Linked DNA regions of Homo sapiens. The protein of the gene in region 2 interacts with the protein of the main gene of each other region in a pairwise test. Each region holds a gene or a part of one and is shown on either strand. Other genes may lie near its edges.

Region 1 (7,937 bases), on a different chromosome or scaffold from region 2:
GGTAAATTGTATGTTGTGGCAAGTGAATTCTATTTCAATAAAGCCGCTAAGCAAAAGTGACTGCAGGGCACTTGACAGCTGATAGCCACTTCCCCAGTAAAATAAAAATTAAAAAAGCAGAATGAGAGTTTCCAGGAGCCCCCAACTTAACAGCTGGTTACACGGCCAACTCCTGAGGACAAACAGGGAAAGTCTTCCCAAATATCTTAGCAGACACTGCCTTCAATTCACACAAGAGATAACTTTCTTCCGCTTTCCCTTGAATGATATTCATAGACTTCCTTGCCCCCAAATTCCGTTCTTCCCCTTGTGATGCAAAGGGGTACCACTCCCATTCCCCACAAACAAATCCAAATTACAGGTAACAGGTGGGTGGGGCATCTGGGTCAATTACAAGTAGCACAGGACAAACCCTCTGATGTCGTCAGAATTCTAGTGAGCTCAACTGCAATGTTTACCTCCAGGGGAGCGTTTTAATGCTCTCCTTTTGTACAGCCCAGTGTGTTCAGGTGCAGGAAAAAAAATCAATTGTTTCAACTGAAAGAGAAGGACATGCCCCACAATTAATCCCAAACGGAATGCCAGAAACAAAAGCAGAACTAAAGGCTGCCCCAGGTTTGCTGTTTTATGCTCGCTACAGTTAAAAGGATTCACAAGAAAATGATTACCTTTCACACCCAGCCAACCCCCCGATCCGCGCTGTCACGCTCATGGCTCACTGCTCCACAGAGATCTTTACCGAGTCTCCCCGACAGGCTGGACGTCAGATTACAGACAGCGTATACAGTCGACTCACACATGGATCTAGGTTTCCTTTATGTTTAAAAGGAATAAAAATCTAACTGCCACCCCCATTTCACAGCTGCGGAAGCAGAAAGGTCTACAGGGCATGAAAACTACAAGGAGGTGGGGCCTCCGCAGCTCAGACTCCCTTCTTCAGGAGAACTCTCCTCTCTCCCTCCCTCCCTTCGCAAAATGTAAACAAAACTGAAAAAAACACCCATACGTGCACACCTGTTCTCCTCACACCCCACCTTCTATTTTAAGGAATATGGGGTTAGAATGAGTCAAATGTTTTTTGCTTCCATTAGGGGCTAAAAGAAAGCCCAAGTGGGTGGTCTACCCACGAGAGTGACTCAATCGACTACCACGTAAGCCCCCCATGCAAGGACAGGGTCTGAGCTCACTCTGGATGAGCAAGGAGTGGTTCCCCCAGTTCTGAAACACCAGCATATGCCAAGGGACACCTGTGCCAAGGTAAGCCTCGGAGCTTCTTCCTGTCGGAGCATTCAGGAAAACAAACCTGAGCGAGAGGTCAGGCACAAAGCAAGCCTAAGGTGAAAGCAACCTGAAATCCAGAGGGTGATGAGGACATTCCCCAGGACCCCGGTGCAACACGCGCCACCCCCCCAGCCCCTCTCCCACCCCAGGCAAGCAGCGCCCAGGACCAGGAAATGCATGCCCGATACTTCTCCCAACCCAAGCCCCCATTTAAAATACCTAAGTAACCTTCTCTAAACATCCACATCATTAAAAATAAGTTTCCAACGTGGCAGACTCGTTTATGTAAAGCCATTATTGCTGTCTTATTGGAAGAACAAAACTCAAACCCAACTTTTCCAAGGCAAGAGTTGTGAAGTTATGTAACAGGTCGGTTTCAGCAACAGGCGATGCAAGAAAAAACAAAATACAACCTGCTTCCTGAATGATCTTAATAGCCAGCCAATATGTGCTCCTCCATGGGAGGCAAAAATTCTTCTCTGCCTCAACCTTCCGCTGGCCAGCGCCCCTATGCATGGGGAAAGTCGAACCTACGCTCCGTGACTGTGAAAGGTGGGGTGCCCAGATGGCTGCGACCACAGATGGGAGGTGGGACAGGCGGCCAGACCCACCAATGGGGAGACCGGGCAGGACCCCCGGACCAGGCCAGAGACAGGATTAGGGCAGGTCACCCTGGATACTCCCGGAAAGGGACTGAGGGAAGTCACTCAAGCTCCGGCCTGAGCAAGACCCGGCCCAGGTCGTAGGAGAACTCGAGGCAGAATACCGAGACCTGCGAAAGAGGGACCAGGGCAGGTCACCCTAGCCCGGATGGAATGGAAGAACTCAGATAAGTCAGGGGGCAGGTTACTCCAGGCCAGACTGATTGTGGGACACAAGGCAGGTCAGCCCGGGCCCAGGAGGGGGAGCAAACCCAGCTGGCGTAAAGGAACAGGGTCAGGTTAGCTCGGTCCCGAACGAAGTGGAGGACTCGAGGCAAGTCTGCCCGGCCCAGGAGTTGGGGGCCGAAGGAACTCAGCCAGGTCGCGGCCGGAGCGGGGGACCCGGGGCAGATCAGGCCAGGCCCGGGCAGATTGCAGGACCTGGGGCAGGTAAGCTCAGGCCGAGCCAGAGTAGGGGACCCGGGGCAGATCGCCCCAGGCCCGGCCGCGATGGGGGACTCCGGCCAAACACAGGCCGGGCCCGAGGCGAGTTCGGGGCAGGTCTCAGGCGCCGAGGCCGGGCCCGGGCTTCCGGCACCGCCATGTGCCGCTCACCTGCGCGTCGAGCTGTCCCGCCGCAGCGCCCGCGCCCGCGCCGCCCGGGCCTCCCGCGCCGCCACCGCCCGGGCCGCCGGGGCCGCCGGGGGGCGTCTGCGTCTGGCTAGGAAGAGTAAAGTCGGTGAACTCGAACTCGGAGCCCTGTGTGTCGGCGCCAAGCAGCTCGGCCTCCTCCGTGTCCAGGAAAGTGAGAGTCTGCGAGCTGGGCCCGTACGCCTCCACGCTCATGGTGCCTCCGGGTAGGGCCCTCGGGCCGGTTCCGCGCTGCACTCGAGCCCGCCGCCGCGCTGAGGCCTAGGCCGCAGGCCTCGGGTCGCTGCCGCTGTCGCCCCCGCGCGCCCGGAAAGGACCAAACCGCGCGCCCCGGCGCCAGCCGGACCGAGAGGTAACAGTGCCGAGCCGCCGCCGCTGCCGCCGAGCCCCTCCGCGCCTCAGCTCCCCTCGAAGCCGCCAGCCGCTCGCAGCCTAGAGCAGGAACTGCCGCCACCGCCGCCGTCGCCGTGCGCGTGCGCGAGCCCGACGCCGGCGGAAGCGCGCGCGCTCTTCGCGGGCGCCTGGTGCCCAGCAGGAAGACGGGACGCGCACCGCGCACGCGCAGGGGGTGGGGCTTTCAACCGCCGCTGCGGCGGCAGCTCGAGGACTTGGTCCCGCCCCAACTGCTAATTGGGGACGCCCGGGCGGCTGGCGGTGTGGACTTGGTGGTCTGCACCTGTGGTCGCTGCGACGGTGTTTCGGTTTAATTGAGCGCTAGCCGAATACCCTACATAGGTGGTCTCGGAACGCCCAACTGGAGAGACTGGGCAGGGACGGTGCGCTCCCACTCCTGGCAAAAGCTGCTTGGAACTCAGTTTCCCCATCTGTAAAATGGAGGGTGCCTCGCACATAGTAGATGCTCCCTGTGCATTGGTTTAAAAAGGGAGTGGGGCTCGGCGCGGTGGTCACACCTGTAATCCCAACACTCAGAGGCTGAGGCGGGAGAACTGCTTGAACTCAGGAGTTCGAGACCAGCCTGGGAGACAGAGTGAGACTCCATCTCTACAAAAAATATAAAAATTAGGCCGAGCGCGGTGGCTCACGCCTGTAATCCCAGCACTTTGGGAGGCCGAGGCGGGTGGATCATGACGTCAGGAGATCGAGACCATCCTGGCTAACATGGTGAAACCCCGTCTCCACTAAAAATACAAAAAATTAGCCAGGCGTGGTGGCACGAGCCTGTAGTCCCAGCTACTCAGGAGGCTGAGGCAGGAGAATCGCTTGAACCCAGGAGGCGGAGGTTGCAGTGAGCCAAGATTGTGCCACTGCACACCAGCCTGGGCAACAGAGTGAGACTCTGTCTCAAAAAAAAAAAAAAAAATTAGCTAAGCGTGGTGGTTCGCACCTGTAGTCCCAGCTACTAGGGAGGCTGAGGTGGGAGGATCGCTTGACCCTGGGAAGTTGAGGCTGCAGTAAGCCGAGATTGCACCACTGCACTCCAGCCTGGGTGACAGAGCGAGACCCTGTCTCAAAAATAAGTAAAAATAAATGAATGGGGATAGTCTTACGTACTGGGCCTGGCACTTGGAAATGATGGTTGCTGCTGTTCCTGATGCCTCTGCCACTGTTATTATACCATTACTATTTTTGCTATGATTATTATTTAGTGGACGTATACAGCAAAACAACTGGAAGCACATGGTCTGTGGTGGACTCTAGACCTGACCACTTACCAGCTGTGTGAAATTATACAAGTGACTTAACCTCTCTGAGCCTAGGGTTTCTGTTGCCATTAAGGTGGCATAGGAAGCCTGGGCAAGGTGGCTCTTTCCTGAAATCCCAGCACTTTAGGAGGTAGAGGCAAGAGAATCACTTGAGCTCAGGAGTTTGAGGCTGCGGTGAGCTATGATTGTGCCACTGCACTCCAGCCTGGGTGACAGAGATCCTATGTGTGTGTGTGTATATTAATATATATTTATTTATGTTAATATAAATAGAGTGACTAGTAGCTCATTTATTCCTCTCATACTCTCATGTGATATATGGTTGCTGCTGATATATATGGAGCCCGGTGCGGTGTGTCACGCCTGTAATCCCAGCACTTTCGGAGGCCAAAAGAGCAAGACCTTGTATAAAAATAAATTTTAAAAACTCTGATAGGTGTTACTAAATTGATCTGAAATTTGTCTACAAATTCCACTGGATGTGTTCCAAAGAGAGCTTTGCATGATATTAAAATTATCTGTTGGTCTGTCAGTATTCCCCCTTAAACTGTGCCTTCTTGGAGAGGGAGACCTACTTTTATTCATTGTTTATATTCCTACAGTTTAGTGCATGCTAGGAGCCCCCCCCGAAATGTTATTTTTATTTTTTATTTTTTGTAGAGATGGGGGTTTTGCTGTTTCCTAGGCTGGTCTTGTACTCCTGACCTCAAGTAATCGTCCCACCTCAATCTTCCAAAGAGCTGTGATTATAGGTATGAGCCACTATGTCTTGTCCCTGAAAAAGAGTGAAGAAGGCTGTGGCTCACACCTGTAATCCCAGCACTTTGGGAGGCAGAGGCAGGTGGATCACCCAAGGTCAGGAGTTCGAGACCAGCCTGGCCAACGTGGTGAAACCCCGTCTCTACTAAAAATACAAAAATTAGCCGGGTATGGTGCGTGCCTGTAATCCTAGCTACTTGGGAGGCTGAGGCAGGAGAACTGCTTGAACCCAGGAGGCGGAGGCTGCAGTGAGCCAACATTGCACCACTGCACTCCAGCCTGGGTGACAGAGCGAGACTCCGTCTCAAAAAAAAAGTGTATATATATATATATATATATATATATATATATATATATATATACATATATATATATGTATATATATATATGATGTATATTATATATCTCACTGTATATATGAGAGGAATAAATGAGCTACTAGTCACTTTATTATATATATAGAGAGAGTGCGCGTATATACATATATATACACACTGTATATATAAGAATAAGTGAGCTACTAGTCACTCTATTATATATAGAGACAGAGATAGACAGTGCGTGTATATACATATATATACACACTGTATATATAAGAATAAATGAGCTACTAGTCACTCTATTATATATAGATAGGGAGTGTGTGTGTGTATATATATATACACTCTATCTCTCTCTCTCTGTGTGTATATATATATATATATATATATGAGAGGAATAAATGAGCTACCAGTCACTCTCTTAATGCATAGTTCCATAAGGACAGGGTGTTGGCCTTGTTCATTATGATCTTCCCCACGGAGAGAATGATGCCTCATACAGTAGGTGCTCAATAAAAAGTTTTCTGACACTTTAAATCCAAGGTAAGCTACTGGTTTATGGGCCTTAATTTCCTAACCCCAGGCGTTCGCTTCCTCTCTGGTAAAGTATCTTGGAAAACACCCTCATTTCCCTTTCTGTCCCAAGATTCTGCTGCTCTTTAAATAAGTCAGCTGAAAGAGCTCCTAGCTTGCACAGCTGAACTAAAAGTTCCCAGTTTGCCGTGGTTCCTTATTTCCAATTTGCCTGTTTATCATCACAGGGACAGAGGTTCTGTTCTCCTTCTTCACATTTTTTTTTTTTTCCCTGAGACGGAGTTACACTCAGTCGCCCAGGCTGGAGTACAATGGCACAATCTTGGCTCACTGCAACCTCCACCTCCTGGGTTCAAGCAATTTTCCTGTCTCAGCCTCCCAAGTAGCTGGGATTACAGGCACCTGCCACCATGCCCGGCTAATTTTTTTGTATTTTTAGGAGAAATGGGGTTTCACCATGTTGGCCAGGCTGGTCTCGAACTCCTGACCTCGGGTGATCCACCTGCCTCTGCCTCCCAAAGTGCTAGGATTACAGGTGTGAGCCACAGCCTTCTTCACTCTTTTTCAGGGACAAGACATAGTGGCTCATACCTATAATCACAGCTCTTTGGAAGATTGAGGTGGGACGATTACTTGAGGTCAGGAGTACAAGACCAGCCTAGGAAACAGCAAAACCCCCATCTCTACAGAAAATAAAAATAACATTTCAGGGGGGCTCCTAGCATGCACTAAACTGTAGGAATATAAACAATGAATAAAAGTAGGTCTCCCTCTCCAAGAAGGCACAGTTTAAGGGGGAATACTGACAGACCAACAGATAATTTTAATATCATGCAAAGCTCTCTTTGGAACACATCCAGTGGAATTTGTAGACAAATTTCAGATCAATTTAGTAACACCTATCAGAGTTTTTAAAATTTATTTTTAGACAAGGTCTTGCTCTGTCACCCAGACTGGGGTGCAGTGGTGTGACCCAGCTCACTGCAGTCTCAACCTTCTGGGCTCAAGGGATCCTCCCACCTCAGCCTCATGAGTAGCAGGGACTACAGGCACACACCACCACACACAGCTATCTTTTAAATTGTTTATTTGTAGAGACAGTGTCTTACTATGTTGCTCAGGCTGGTCTCAGTCTCCTAAGCTCAAGCGATCCTCCCTCCTCAGCCTCCCAAAGTGCTGGGATTACAGGCGTGAGCCACCACACCCAGCCCACCTTTCAGAGTTTTAATTGCCCCTCTCCCACTTTGACCCACCTACTCCATTTCTAAAGATCTCTTCTTATTTCCTGTATACACTCACAATTGCAAAGTGACATTGGGATGGTACATTAGAATACATCTATTTAAAGAAAAAGACCAAAAAAAAAAAAAAACCACATCTATTTAACAAAAAAGAAGTCAGTAGTGGAGGAATTGAACAAAAAAGACATAAGATGTATAGAAAAATAGGAGGCCAGGTGCGGTGCCTCACACCTGTAATCCCAGCACTTTGAGAGGCTGAGGCAGGTGGGCAGGTGGATCCCTTGAGGTCAGGAGTTTGAGACTAACCTAGCCAACGTGGTGAAACCCCATCTCTATGAAAAATACAAAAATTAGCCAGGCATGGTAGCACACACCCGTAATCCTGGCTACTCGGGAGGCTGAGGCACGAGAATCACTTGAACCCGGGAGGCAGAGGTTGCAGTGAGCCGAGATCACGCCACTGCACTCCAGCCTGGGTGACAGAGTGAGACTCCGTCTCAAAAAAAAGAAAAAGAAACATCAGAAAATGGCAGAAATAAGTGCTCATCAGCAATTACATTAAATGTAAATGGATTAAACTCTACCTAAAATGCAGAGTGTGTCAGAATGGATTTAAAAAGAAATCAAGGCTGGTCACTGTGGATCACGCCTATAATCCCAGCAGCTTGGGAGGCCAAGGTAGGAGGAGGAGTGTTTGAGTAAAGGAGTTTGAGACTAGCCTGGGCAATAGAGTGAGACCCTGTCTCAAAAAAAAAGTGTTGTTTTTTTTTTTTGTACAGACAGGGTCTCACTCTATTGTGGGTGCTGGAGCACAATGTTGCAATCTCTGCCTACTGCAACCTCGAC
Region 2 (7,078 bases):
AAGAATGATCTTAGTGTTGGTGGTTTTGTGGTTTTCTTTGAGACTTTGTTATTGACAGAACAGCTTCTGGAAATCTGAAAAGAAAAAAAAAAAGGTAGTTTATATATTAGTTTGGAATATGAAATGTATTTTGTCATGGTCTCCAGAGTCCGAATATTGATCTCTGTGGAGCTCTCCTACCCTCTGCTACTGCTGATAACTCATAGTACTGGAGAGATAGCAGAGCCTGAAGACCAAAAAACTCAACTGCCGATACACGGCTGCAGTGTGGTCAGTTACTGATCTACCATTTATGAAGCAGGCCTACAGATGTGTGTGTTCTTCTGGGTAATTTAAATTGACAATTAATTAACAGGGCTGGTGCTAGGTAAACATTATAGGTTAGAATCCCTAGTGTGGATTAATTTGCTCTCTTCCATGATCGCAGACTCCCTGCTTAGCTCCAGTCTGCTGGTCTCCCAACATCTGCTAATGATTACATGGGCAGCATTAAGGTCTCTTATTACCTTGTTTGAAAAACTGGAAACTCATCTGTTATTGTTGGTGGTTAGATACCTCACCTAAGTAAAATATTAATTAATGATATTAGGCTGGGCGCGGTAGCTCATGCCTGTAATCCCTGCACTTTGGGAGGCAGAGGCAAGTGGATCACTTGAAGTCAGGAGTTCGAGACTGGCCTGGCCAACATGGTGAAACCCCGTCTCTACTAAAAATACAAAACTTAGCCAGGTGTGATGGTGTGTACCTGTAATCCCAGCTACTCCAGAGGCTGAGGCAGGAGATCACTTGAACCTGGGAGAGGGAGGTTGCAGTGAGCTGAGAACACATCATTGTACTCCAGCCTGGGCAACAGAGCAAGACTCCATCTTGGGGGAGAAAAAATAAATAAAATAAATACAAAATAAAAAAAGAAAAAGTCCCCAACCATTAGTTGTCATATTGTAACCTCCAAGAAGACATAACTTTTTATTAAATTTTAAATACAGATGTTTATTTTTTATTTTTTATTTTTAAGATGGAGTCTCGCTCTGTTGCCCAGGCTAGAATGCAGTGGCGTGATCTCGGCTCACTGCAAGCTCCGCCTCCTGGGTTCACGCCATTCTCCTGCCTCAGCCTCCTGAGTAGCTGGGACTATAGGCGCCTGCCACCACGCCCGGCTAATTTTTTTTTGTATTTTTTTTAGTAGAGACGGAGTTTCACCGTGTTAGCCAGGATGGTCTGGATTTCCTGACCTTGTGATCCGCCCACCTCAGCCTCCCAAAGTGCTGGGATTACAGGCGTGAGCCACTGCGCCCGGCCCAGATGTTTATTTTTACCTCAATATTTAAGCAATTTAACTTCAACCAACCCCTGAATTTGAGTTAAGGATGCAGAGTATATAAGTGTTTGTCAGCTAAACATTTTGCCCACCATCAATAGCTACTCAATAAATAAAGTTTTTTTTTTTTTTTTTTAAAGAACACAAAGCTAAATAGGGCAACTAAGAATTGAGTTTTATGTGTTATGATACAATAATGAATTTTAAACTTTCCAAAAGTACAATAACTGGTCTATGTTCTCGAGTATAAGTCTAGACAAATACAGTTTCTGGAAATAACTACAAAAGCCAACATTTATTGAGCATTTGTTGTGTGGCAGGCACACAGGTTATCTGATTTAATCCTTATAACAACCTGGGAGGTTAAGTACTATTAATATGTTGATTTTACAGATGATAAAATCCAAGGTTCAATAAGGTAAATATTTTTGCAAGGGCACAGACTTATCATAAGATGGATATTGGGGGCCTGACTCCAGAACCTTAGACCTCTACAATATAATAAGGTGAAAATAAATTTATTTCCAGAATTCCAGATACTGGCACTGGCATTTTTTTTTTTTTTTTTTTTTGAGATGGAGCCTCGCTCTGTTGCCAGTCTGGAGTGCAGTGGCGTGATCACTGCAACCTCCACCTCCCAGGTTCAAGCAATTCTCCTGCCTCAGCCTCCCGAGTAGCTGGGACTACAGGTGCGCACCACCACGCTCGGCTAATTTTTGTGTTTTTAGTAGAGATGGGGTTTTACCATGTTGGCTAGGATGGTCTCCATCTCTTGACCTCGTGATCTGCCCGCCTCGGCCTCCCAACGTGCTGGGATTACAGGCGTGAGCCACCACGCCCGGCCGCACTAATGCATTTTTAAAAATTAAAAGCAAGAGTGTTTAAAGAAAAGGTAAATACACGGAATGCAATGCTACAAATGAAAATACGAGTGATTAAAAACTACTACTCCTCACCTTGTGAACCTGCCTTGGGTTATAAAAGCAAATTTGGATATTTCTGGATTTTGCTCGTTATTTAATGGCTAACTGTATTATTTCTTTTATTTATTTATTTATTTTTGAGACGGAATCTCGCTTTTTGCCCAGGCTAGAGAGTGCAGTGGTGCCATCTCCGCTGACTGCAACCTCCGCCTCCCGGGTTCAACCAATTCTCCTGCCTCAGCCTCCCAAGTAGCTGGGATTACAGGCGCACACACCACCAGGCCCGCCTAATTTTTGCATTTTTAGTAGAGACGGGGTTTCACCATGTTGGCCAGGCTGGTCTCGAACTCCTGATCTCAAATGATTCACCCGCCTCGGCCTCCCAAAATGCTGGGATTACAGGCGTGAGCCACCGCACCTGGCCTGTATTATTTTTAGATAACATGTCATCCTGGCTTTGTGACTAATTTTATGCATAGGTGAGTGGCATAACTTGTCAGCCTGCTTTTAAATGTAACTTCCTAAAATACCAGCAGCATTTAATTTATGTACGTATGATACTGGCTTGCATTTGAGGTGGGTATCAGAAAAGAAAGCAGAAAAATCCAACTTGCCTTTTTCACCGGGAGTATGGGGGCTTCTTTGGCCAAACCGTGCGCGTGCAGGCTCCATGTGCTGGGCAGCAGCTGTCCGGCCACAGCCTGTCGGTTGCATCCTGCTCCTCTACAGAGGTTTCTCCAAAAAAAGAACAAATGGAGAGATGAAGGTAAGTAAAAGCGGCACTTTAAAACTTTTAGAGTGCTGGGTTTCTAAATTTATATTCTGAAAGACATTAATCTCTTTTTGAAAATGTTTTATGCAAGCCTAATATACATACAGTATCAACCTCATTTTAGAAGCAGTTACGACAGAGCTTTGGAACAGAATTTACGTAAACGACCTCCTTCCAGAAGATGCTACTAAAGCAACAAGATTCAAATCCCTCTCCCTCAGAAGAGCTGGGAGATCCACTGCAAAGGCGCACGTTTCAGTCTAGCCATTGCGCAGTGGTAACGCAGGCTTTCCCACGCTGCAACAGACCTGTGCTCTCAAGACAGTCTCTTCCGTGACGAGCAGGCGCTTAGGGCTACCTGTACCTTCAGACATTATGGTGTGTTTGGCCATGTCATTTGTCATAGGTGTAAAAACCACAACCGAGAGCCCGAAGCTGCTGGGATGAGCACCTGCCGCGGAACTGCATTCTCGCGCTCCTTCCTGCTCTTTCCAAGAAGCCAGGCGCGGCCGGCCAGCATCCCGCTCTCCCGGACCCCGCAGTCAGTGTGGGCAGCAGGCCCAGAGTGGTGCGAGCCGACGGCGGCGTTAGAAAGGCGGCGTCCCGACGAACAGAGTGACTCGGCCTCGGCTCCCCTTCAAAGCGCCATCTTATCGCTGCTTCCCTCAGGAGCAGGCGAGCTCTTCCCCAGGACCTGCTTCGCGGCTTCCCTTCGCCCGAGAACCACCGGGCGGAGGCGGCGGCCTCTCTGGCCCTGCCGGGAACAGGGCGCAGGGGAGGGGAGCGGCGGCCGACCGGCCTGAGGCGGGCGAACGGCCTCTGGCCTCCAGGCGCTGCCTGCTCCGGCTCAGAAGCCTCCCGGATCCCGTCCCGGCCCAACTCCGGGCCTCCGCCTCCGCCGCCGCCTCCGGGAGCCCCGAGCCGCGTCCCGCCGGCGCCGCCTCTTCCGCCTGCTAGCCGGCGGGCCTGGGCGGCGTCCGCGCCGGGCGGGTCCGCTACGTCAGCGCCGCCCGCCCGCCCCGCCCCGGCCCTCAGCCTCGGCCTCGGCCTCGGCCTCGCAGCGGCGGCAGCGGCGGCGGCGGCAGGTCCCTCCCCAGACATGGCCCTGGGAGGCGGCAGCACATGGCGGCCGCGGCGGCCATGAGCGCGCCCCCGACCCGCCCCAGTCCCCCCTAGAGGCCGCCGCCCCCGCCCGCCAGCCCGCCCGCGCGCCACGGCCCCACCACCCCCGGCCCCGCCGCCCCCCGCCCGCACCCGCGCCCGCGCCCCCGCCGCCGCCATGGGCGTGCAGGGCTTCCAGGACTACATCGAGAAGCACTGCCCGAGCGCCGTGGTGCCGGTGGAGCTGCAGAAGCTGGCCCGGGGCAGCCTGGTGGGCGGCGGGCGGCAGCGGCCCCCGCAGACCCCGCTGCGCCTGCTGGTGGACGCCGACAACTGCCTGCACCGCCTCTACGGCGGCTTCTACACCGACTGGGTCAGCGGCGGCCAGTGGAACCACATGCTTGGCTACCTGGCGGCGCTGGCCAAGGCCTGCTTCGGCGGCAACATCGAGCTCTTCGTCTTCTTCAACGGCGCGCTCGAGAAGGCCCGGCTGCACGAGTGGGTCAAGCGGCAGGGCAACGAGCGCCAGACGGCACAGCAGATCGTCAGCCATGTCCAGAACAAGGGCACCCCGCCGCCAAAGGTCTGGTTCCTGCCGCCCGTCTGCATGGCCCACTGCATCCGCCTGGCGCTCATCCGCTTCCACGTCAAGGTGAGGCCGGGGATCCGGGCGGGCCGGGGACCGGGGCCGCGCCGCACCCCTATCCCCCTTCCCAGGGCGCAGAATGTCGCCCGGCCGTGGCGGCGCTGGGGGCAGCGAGTTCCCCCAGCCCTTGCCCGGGATAGCCTGGCCGGGCCGGGCTGCAAGATGGATGGCCGCGGGTGCAGGCCGCGCGCTGCCCAAGCCCGTCTCCAGCTGTCCCTGTTCGGGGTCCGCGGCCGCGTGGGGACACTTGAGGGCTGGGAGAGAGCCCCGGACCAGAATTCGGAGGCGACAGTGTCATCATCCCCAATATCCTTAGTTTTTCCCATCCTATTTGAGGCGGGCAGGCTATCACTCACCTTCAACTTTGACAAAATACTCCCTTTTCTAATTTAGCCTGTTCTTTCCCAGCAACAGGTTCATCTTGGAAGCAGGCAGGATACAGAGTAATAGAGGGGGTTTCGCCAGAGCCCTTGGGGGCTGCAAATATCAGTGCTGCTGCCGCCGCCCTTGCCAATGTTGTTAGCCCGGTGACAGCGAGACGTGTCTAAGGGCCAGTGCCCTGGCCTCTACTTCAGAACGCAGTGCCCTGTCCGTGTTCCTCTTAGTACAGGGTGTTTAGAGAATCTTTCTATGGCTTTTTGTGTTAGATTTCAAAGACCCGTGCACTTTGACAGGATGGGATTTTGTCAGTTCTGTGACTTCACGTCCGTGTGAAAGAGGTCTTTAAGGCAGTTCGGTTTTGTAGATCCCATGCGAAAGGAGTCGCTCAAAATCAGGGGGCGAACTACGCGGGCGTGAACTCGCAGGATTTATTTTTCGGGTGCACAGTAAGTATTCAGTGACCTTCAGCGGTGCCCTGACGGGTGGGTAATCAGAGCTCTATATCACCGGCCTCCTCTGGCCCTTTGGCAGAGGGCTTCGCAGCTGGCACTGGGCCAGAGGAGAACTTCAGGACCCAGCAGTGACTGTGAAGATAAGCACATCCATGATCCTGGACTTCACGTTCTGATTGCTTGCTTTTTTCATTGGTTTTCTTGAAAACAAATTTTGGGGGCCTTTTTGTTGTCTTAGCTCTTGACACTCGGTCTTCCATCTTGTCATTTGACATTTCCTTGAAACTGCTGGAGCTGAAAGTTTGTGAAATTCTGTCTTCGCGGTTGCCCCCACTGCCCGCGAGGAGATGGTGGTAGTTAAGCCTAAAATGATAGCGGAAGTCCCACCCACGATCCGGTTGCAATTGGTGAGATGGTGTTTAAGTCGTGGGTGGAGGCGGCCGGCAGAGTCCCGATTGGCCCCTGCGCCTGGCAGACACACAGCTGCCATTCCTCAGGGAAGTTCGGGTGAGAGGAAGTGCCTGCCTTTTAATTTCTGAATCGGAGCCTGGGGCGCTCAGGGAAGTAAGGTGCTGCCATTTGTCTGAAGCGATCCATCTCCCTAATAGAGCGTAAAAGTGTTCATAGTTTAGTCTTGTTCAGAGATGGAAAAGACTACTTAAAAGACAGGATGAGCTGCACTGACTTGCCTTTGGTAACCGCACAGCTCTCTACTTAACTAGTCAAGCGACTTTCAAGGGAACACTGTGAATATTACTTAGGATTAGAATCAGTATGTATGCATATGGTCACTGTATCTTTAAAGAACTGTTGAGTTCTTTTTAATTCTACAGTTTCTTTATCTTTGCACCCCTTTGAATGCCTCGCACACCTAGTAGGTGCTCAGAATTCAGACCAATGTGTCAGTGTTAGGAAACTAGATTTAAGCTCCATTTAAGATCGTCTTTTTCACTTAGGTTTCTGGACACGGGATAATGGGATAATTTTGTCTGTATTTTGCTTTTGCTAAGCTTTTAATTATTGACCTAGGGTCATATTATAGTGCGAATTGCACAAAATGAATATTGTAATAACTCAATTACTTGGTGGTCTCTTAGCTGGCAACCTTACCTTTTTGAAAAGTGCCTAAGAGATTTAGCTACTAGAAATTTCTCAGCAACCAAGCAAGATGTCAGGAAGTTTGGGTACAGTGATGTGGGGGGTTGGCGGGTGTAGGGGGGTGCTTTTGCTTTCCTCACTGAAGAATCCTTTAAGCTCTCTCACTCATGGACTGGCCTCTTTTCATATGTAATTCTAACAAGCTTGGTTATCTATTTTCTAAACTCAGCTTGAGAAGAGGATGAAGAGGAGAGTCTGCCAGAGGCAGGAGCACCATTAATAGCAAGAAGTGACAAGAGAGATTTAAAAAGCTATAAAAAGCAAACATAATTCTGGGGCTATTTTAAGAAAAGGAAAACAACCCTATGTACTTCCTTGGTCCCTGAG

The links. The genes of interacting proteins can lie anywhere in the genome.
Region 1: the proteins of FAM120A (region 2) and UPF1 interact in binary tests that used the Homo sapiens proteins (3 or more experiments, as listed by UniProt).

What each region holds. Positions count from the first base shown.
Region 1 is NC_000019.10:18,827,041-18,834,977, reverse strand, and holds the start of UPF1 (regulator of nonsense transcripts 1), read right to left. Parts: upstream 3,020-7,937; 5' UTR 2,769-3,019; coding exon 2,538-2,768; intron 1,305-2,537; exon of another isoform or gene 1,290-1,304; coding exon of another isoform or gene 1,188-1,289; intron 1-1,187. UniProt on the Homo sapiens protein: RNA-dependent helicase required for nonsense-mediated decay (NMD) of aberrant mRNAs containing premature stop codons and modulates the expression level of normal mRNAs.
Region 2 is NC_000009.12:93,447,624-93,454,701, forward strand, and holds the start of FAM120A (constitutive coactivator of PPAR-gamma-like protein 1), read left to right. Parts: upstream 1-4,061; 5' UTR 4,062-4,292; coding exon 4,293-4,766; coding exon of another isoform or gene 4,767-5,086; exon of another isoform or gene 5,087-5,978; intron 5,979-7,078. Other genes in the region: uncharacterized protein FAM120AOS, read right to left, coding at 1-74, 2,856-2,976, 4,524-5,086. UniProt on the Homo sapiens protein: Component of the oxidative stress-induced survival signaling. May regulate the activation of SRC family protein kinases. May act as a scaffolding protein enabling SRC family protein kinases to phosphorylate and activate PI3-kinase.